Homo sapiens: one gene and its partner. The protein of the gene in region 1 interacts with the protein of each later gene in a pairwise test. Each region holds a gene or a part of one and is shown on either strand. Other genes may lie near its edges.

Region 1 (3,644 bases):
ACCATCCCCCTCATGTACACCGTCCCCACCATGTACATCATCCCCCCATGTACACCGTCCCCACCATGTACACCATCCCCCCATGTACACCGTCCCCACCATGTACACCATCCCCCCGTGTACATCATCCCCTTGTATACACCACCCCACCCGTGTATACCGTCCCCCCATGTACACCATCCCCTCGTGTACACCATTCCCCCGTGTACACCATCCCGCCCATGTACACCATCTCACCCATGTACACCATCCCCCCGTATGCCCCATCCCCCCGTGTACACCATCCCCCCGTGTACACCATCCCCTCGTGTACACCATCCGCCTGTATGCCCCATCCCCCCACCGTGTACACCATCCCGCCCGTGTACACCACCCCACCTGTATACACCACCCCGCCTGTATACCCCATCTCGCCCATGCTCCCAAGTCTCCTCCGTGAGCGCTAGGCCTACTAAGTAGCCACCTGAGTCACCAGTTCCACTGGGCGCCTGACAGACATGTCAGTGGAAGCCACCCCAAACTCAGCTTCTCTCTGGAACTTTTGCAGCTGTTCAGGCACCAAACATTGGAACCACTTTTCATGGTTCTGTCTCTGCCCACATGCAACCACCAGTGAGTTCTGGTAACTCCACCTTCAGGAGAGGCTGAGTCCGGCCCTTCCCAGGCCCCTGGCTGGATTATTCCAGCAGCCTCCTTGCCAGGTTCCCGCCTTCCACCCTCCTCACCGGGTTCCCGCCTTCCACCCTCATCACTGGGTTCCTGCCTTCCACCCTCATCACTGGGTTCTTGCCTTCCACCCTCATCACTTCTCTTCACACATCGGCAGAAGGACTCCTTAGAAACACTCTACAGTGCTCCGTCTTTGTTTAAAACCCTTTGACACCTTCCCATAGACCCCAGCCAAAGCCCAAGTCCTCCCTGGGTCTGTAAAGACCTCCGTGATCTGCCCCCACCCCATCCCGCTGACCTCATTTCCCGCATCCCTGCCTCTCCATGGCCTGCTCTAGCTACCTGGAGCTCCTGGCTGTTTCTGGAGCACACAGAAGTGCCCCTGGAATTCTCCCAGCATCCCACATGACTGGCTCCTTCCCCCTGGGTCTGTGCTTACATGCTCCCTGCTCTGACCGTCCCTGACCACCCGATTGAAAATGTCATCCTCCACCCCGGCACTGCCTGCCTGCTGCTCCAGGCACGCCCTCTTCCAGAGCACCCTAGAATCCAGGTGTTGTGGCTCTCCCACTTGACTGTGATCTCCACATGAGCAGGCGTTAGGTGTCTGTTCACTGCTACATCCTGGTGTGTAACAGGCACTTGGCAAACGTGGAGGGAATGAAGGGCTGTTGCCATGTGTGTGTGTTGGCGAGGGGGGTTACGTTTAAGCAGCCACCTGTGTGAGCTCACCTTCATCAGTAGGCAGCGTGACCATCCAGGCAGGTATGAGATAGCCACTCTGGCAAGGACGGCCTTCACAGAAGGGACTCGAGGTGGGGACTGAGGGGAGGGTCCCATAGGCCAGCTGCGGAATTAGGACACCTGCCCCCACAGCTTACCCTGGCCAGGGTGTTGAAGGCTGCAGGTCATGATGTCTTGGTGCAGAAGGAGAAAAGGAGACCTGGGCTATGTGTTCTCTTTTGAAAAGATAGTAATCTTATGTTACATGGTTCTCCCACCTTCTTGAAACAAACACACAAACAGCTCATGTTTTTTCAACAAGGATGAATTGAGCAAGTTGGAGGTGGGAGGCCATGGGCTGGCCCTGGGGAGCCCTGGTGCCCAGGCCCTGCAGTTCCAGCGCCATGCAGCCTCTGGTCTCATGAAGACGACCTTGGCCTGTTAGCTGCCCCCCACCCCCGCAGGGACTTGGCTGGGAGGGCAGGTGCTAAAAGTGTCTGCCGTGTGGAGGCAGGAAGGCTGCTCAGAGGATGGGCTTTCCCGCTGAAAGCAGAGGGTGGGCTGCTGTCTGGGATGAGCCCAGCAGTTTGGAAGAGTGTGAGGGAGATGAACGGTCTCAGGGAGGAAGTCCGGTTGCTGTTCTGGAGCTGAGACAGAGCCCAGAGCCTTCTGTGTGAACAGGGAGAGAGCCAGGACAGAGCCCGGACAGAGCCCTCCCTTCTGCTCGGTGGGCAGGCATTGGCAGACACCCAGGGCTTCCTTGTAGGCATGCAGGCCGTTGGCTGCCAGCCCTGCCCTCTGCAGGCAGCACCTCTGGCTGGTGGCAGAGTTCATTCAGCCCCTGGGCACGTCCCCGGGTGTGTCTCCGGGCCAGATGGGGCTGCACAGTTCTGCATTAGCTTAGGAAGTTGGTTTTCAAGACATTGATGCTTCCTTTTGTCTGTAACAGTCATTTCTATTTTAATAGAAAATAAGATCTGTGAATTAGAATTTTTTCCTGGTCAATTGCACCCCATTCGAACCTTTCCTTTTCATTTTTCATTATGGCAATTGTACATTCACCTAGTTCTCAGTTCAGATGGAGCACATACTTTTTGGAGAATTTCTGTCAAATATGCTAGAGTGTTGATTCTGCTGATGCCTGCTTTCAATGTGAGTGATGCCAGGAGTAACTGTTTTTCTCCCCACCTGGCTGTGGTGCTCCCAGTCCTTGAACACTGCGCTGAAGCACCTGTGCGAGATCCTCACGGACGATCCGGAGGGCGGGCCCGCTCGCATCCCCTTCAAGACGTTTTCCTACGTTTACCGCTACTTGGCCAGATTAGACTCAGATGTGTCTCCCTTGGAGACGGAATCCTACCTTGCCTCTCTAAAGGAAAATATGTAAGTATGCACCCTCTCTAGGATTCAGGTATGTTGACCATGGGAGAATTTCCTGTTTCACTTCCCCCTTGTAGGGAAAAACTCAGTTTTTCCTTTGCTCTCTCACCACAACAATAATCAACACAGAAGACTGCTATGATCAAATGTGTGGAGGTTTTTCCTCACCAAAAAGCAAGCAAGTGGTCCTGCAGCAGACACCAGCTGTGCATTCTCATTCCGTCTCTACCCTGTCTACCTGGAGATAGCCTGAGATCCCACAGGTTGAGGGTTCAGTCCCCAAGACTGCCCCCACCCTGCCCCATTTCTGATGCTAGTTGCAAGCCCCAGGTTATTTTGCCTGTGCTTCTGACCGACTGGCTCTAAATCAGGGTTCCCACAACCCCTCCTTGGGTCAATTAATTTGCTAGAATGGTTCACAGAACTCAGGGAAACACTCATGTTTACTATTTGATTACAAAGGATATTTTAAAGGCTACCAACAGTCAGAGGAAGACAGACAAAGGGCAAGGTCTGGAAGGGTCTGGAGCATGGGGGCTTTTGCCCCCATGGAGTTGAGGTACATCCCCTCCCTGCCCGCAAATGAGCTCTTGTTCACCTTCCTGTTGGTCTCGATGTGTTTAGCTTCCGGGAAACTTTCTAAGCCCTGTCCTTTTAGGGTTTCTTTTTCCTGGAAGCTTTGTGATTGATTAAATCATTGGCCAATAGTGATCACCTAAGCCATCAGCCCCTCTCCCCACCTCCAAGGTTGGGCTGGGCTGAAAGTCCCACCCCTCTAATCCTGCCTTGGGCTCTCCAGTGACCAGCCCCATCCTGAAGCTACCTGGGCCATCAGCCAATCACAAGCATAAAGAAAGAACTCACTTTGGAGA
Region 2 (3,820 bases), on another chromosome or scaffold:
TTTGATCCAGAGATAATAGGTTGGGTATTAGCCTACATGCTGTGAGAAATTTTTATTTTCACTTCATTTCATGTCATGTCATGTCATGTCATTTCATGTCATCTCATTGCAGGTTCAATAATCCTTGGTTCATAACACACTTGCATTATTGGTCTATGCTTGGTCCACTTTTATCTGTGTTTTTTTTTCTTTCTATCTATTATTCCTTCTTTGCTTTTCTTTCTCTGCCCCCTCTTTCCTCTCTTCTTGCTTCCATCCCTCCTTCTCTTTGTGTATCTACGTTTCTCTCTCTATCTCTTAAAAAGCAATGTAATAATAACCTGGGAATGGTGGGAATTGAACAATGAGAACACATGGACACAGGAAGGGGAACATCACACTCTGGGGACTGTTGTGGGGTGGGGGGAGGGGGGAGGGATAGCATTGGGAGATATACCTAATGCTAGATGACGAGTTAGTGGGTGCAGCGCACCAGCATGTCACATGTATACATATGTAACTAACCTGCACATTGTGCACATGTACCCTAAAACTTAAAGTATAATTTAAAAAAAAAAGAAAAAAAAAAGAAACAATCATCTATAGGAATGAATAGAGCAGAATCTGGAAAAAAAGAAAAAAAAAATAATAACCTAGGAATCTACCACCCCAAACAGAAGCTAGTGCTTTGGTAGTAATCTAACCGTATTGTCCTTTCAGTAATGCATCCTTTGGCCTTCCTCCAATTAAGTTCACTGTCATCCTGAAGTCAGTGTTTACTTCCTTTTATTTTCCCAAAGTATATGTATTTTCATTTTAGTTGGTTTTAACTTAATAAAAAGGGCATCTTGTTGTATGTGATCTATTGGGACATCCTTTTCACTTAATATTACATTGCCTCTTTGCAGTTTAATAATTGCCCATTTAAAAGTGTACATTTGGCAGGGAGTGAGGATCAGGTTTCATTGTTGGTTTTTCTTTTGTGTTCTTAAGATATTTGTGATAAATATTTTTGTGAATGTCAGTGTTTATATAGGGCTGGATTATCATACAGATTAATTGTTAGAATGACATTTAGCATAGTGTCAGTTGTGCTGTCTAGTATATGGTTTAAGTTCGCTGAGTTCATTATCCATTCAGATGTATCAGAAGTAGAGCTGTTTAGTTATCTTTATAGTAGAAGATTTCTGTTATGTACTTGAAATACGTTTTACATAACAGCATTTCAATTGGGTTGCAAATGTGAAATTCACTATTGCTGTTATTAGTGACACAGCCGCATTCATTTTAGCAAAGGTTTTTATAAATTTATTACCTCTAAATTTCATTTCTTCTACATAATGTTGGGCCCAAGGAATTATACTTGAGTAGGAAGAATTCATTCCTTTAGCATGCAATTAGCCAGTGCCAACTAGTACTTGGGATAGAAAACTGGAAAAAAAAAAGATCCTTTTCCTTTAAGGAGCATATAGCCTTGTGCAGAAACAAACAGGCAAGCAATTACAGTGCAATATAATAATAACAATAATTTTTGTAGCTAGAGGCAGAGGCACAGAGTATAGCAGGCACATAGGAAGGAGAAGGGGGCGGATTGAGGAAGATTTCATAGGAGAAATAGCGTTTGAGTTGACATTTGAAGGGTAAATACAGGTTTTCTGGTTGGACAAATTGGAGGAGTGTATCCTGGGTAGAGGGAACAGCATATGCAAATAAATCAAGTCCTATTTAGGGGCCTACAAGTAGTTTAGTGTTACTGAAGTATAAATTGCAAATCTAGAGATACCATCAAATGAGATTCGTATGCTAAAGGGAGCAGTGAAGGTAAAATAAGGGCATGAGGAGAGCGGTGAAAGTTTAGAATGGCGACCAAGGGAAATGGAAGGGGAAAGTTTAATAAGCAGCATGTAATGGGGTTGCAGAGCAATGCAGAAGCTGCATTTGGGATGAGTGCAGAAATTTGTAATGGTACTAATCTGTGATCTTCTCAAGTACTATGTAGGATTTAGCTGTGAGAATGGAGAGGGGAAACTGAATTAATCCATACTGGAGCACTTGTATGGTAGGTGTGGTAAAAAGACAAAGGAGCCAGACTGTCAAGAGAGTGGTAGAATGTTTGATGTGATCATTATTGGACGTACATTAGAAAAGGCAGTGAAGTCTGGATGGGACTAATATTTGGAAGGAGAATAGAGTAATAGGGCTGAAGATTAGAGTTAGTAGAAGTTCAAGAGTGAGACAGGAAAATTAGGAGGTGTGATCAGAGAGCAGTATATTGGATTTTATGAATTGAGGAGATTTCTGGTTCATAGAGAGTATGAAGAAACTTTGTTCGTTGACGTCACAAAGAAAAACAAATGATAGCTAGAAGTTTTAAAATCGAGAGAAAGACAAATTATTAGGTTGCATAGGAGAAACTTATAGCTTCAGTGAAGTCCCTAGGTACATGATCAGTATACAAAAACCTATAAATAATTAAAGTATTTTTTAAGAGGCACAATTTTTAATAACAAGAACAGTAGAGACATGTAGGAATAAATCAACTAAAGGATATGCAAGACTTCTATGGAGGAAATATTTTGGCTATTACATCTTTACTAGGTATGTTTATCATAACATTTTTCCCCTTTCCTTTTTTAAAGACAGAGTCTTGCTCTGTCACCCAGGCTGGAGTGCAGTGGTGCAATCATGACTCACTGCAGCCTTGAGCCTCCTAGGCTCAAGCGATCCTCCTGCCTCAGCTACAGGTGTGTGCCACCATGGCCAGCTAATTTTTTTTTTAAGAGTTGGAGTCTCACTATGTTGCCCAGACTGGTCTTGAACTCTTGGCCTCAAGCAGTTGTCCCACCTTAGCCTCATAAAGTGTTGGGATTACAGGCATGAGCCACTGTGCCCAGCCCCTCCTTTCTTTTTCTATTTGTTGCAAGAGCGTCTATTCCTCTCACTGAGAAATACATTTCTAGACTAAGCCAGACCATCAAAAAAATTGTATAGGTACTTAGACAAAATCATGTAAAACTTTGTAGAATTGATATTACAGAATTGCTTTTACTATAATTCTTTTGGCATTATTTGATGATTTTCTAAGAAACAGGTTTATGGAAATTCTCTGTGTTTATTTTAAGTATTACAAATGTTGATTATATCTTGTTAAATAACATGAGTTGATTAGAAAAAATTCTTTTTGGCTGGGTGCGGCGGCTCATGCCAGTAATCCCAGCACTTTGGGAGGCCGAGGTGGGCAGATCGTGAGGTCAGGAGTGGCCAGTACTGGAGACCAGCCTGGCCAATATGGTGAAACCCCGTCTCTATTAAAAATACAAAAAATTAGCAGGGTGTGATGGGACCTGTAGTCCCAGCTACTCAAGAGGCCGAGGCAGGAGAATCACTTGAACCCGGGAGGCGGAGGTTGCAGTGAGCCGAGATCGTGCCACTGCACTCCAGCCTAGGTGACAGAGCGAGACTCCATCTCAAAAAAAAAAAAAAAAGAAAAAAGAAAAAATTCTTTTTAATTTTAATATCAGGACTATTTCTCTTGAACATGTTGTTTTTTACCTAATGAATGTTGAACATTTAACTTGTGTCTTTGGGTTAGAATTGGTTACTTGAACACTTAGAATCCAGTTTATTGCATACTTCAATTTAGAATATAGGACATAATGCTATTCTTTTTGTGCACTTACCTCATACCTGGCTTCATGTTATCTTTCCAGTTTTAGTTTCTGTTTGTCTCATTTTCTTTATTTTAAATTTACTTATTATAGTGTATACTTCTTTGGAGTTATCTTAAATCCTATTTTTAGGGATAGGGTGAAGCAAAACATGTAAGCAAGCATGCAAACAA

Evidence for each region.
Region 2: the proteins of ROPN1L (region 1) and AKAP7 interact in a two-hybrid assay, tested with the Homo sapiens proteins (one large-scale study listed by BioGRID).

Annotation. Positions count from the first base shown.
Region 1 is NC_000005.10:10,458,585-10,462,228, forward strand, and holds part of ROPN1L (ropporin-1-like protein), read left to right. Parts: intron 1-2,599; coding exon 2,600-2,775; intron 2,776-2,781; exon of another isoform or gene 2,782-3,644. UniProt on the Homo sapiens protein: Functions as part of axonemal radial spoke complexes that play an important part in the motility of sperm and cilia. Important for male fertility.
Region 2 is NC_000006.12:131,169,753-131,173,572, forward strand, and holds part of AKAP7 (A-kinase anchoring protein 7), read left to right. Parts: intron 1-3,820. UniProt on the Homo sapiens protein: Probably targets cAMP-dependent protein kinase (PKA) to the cellular membrane or cytoskeletal structures.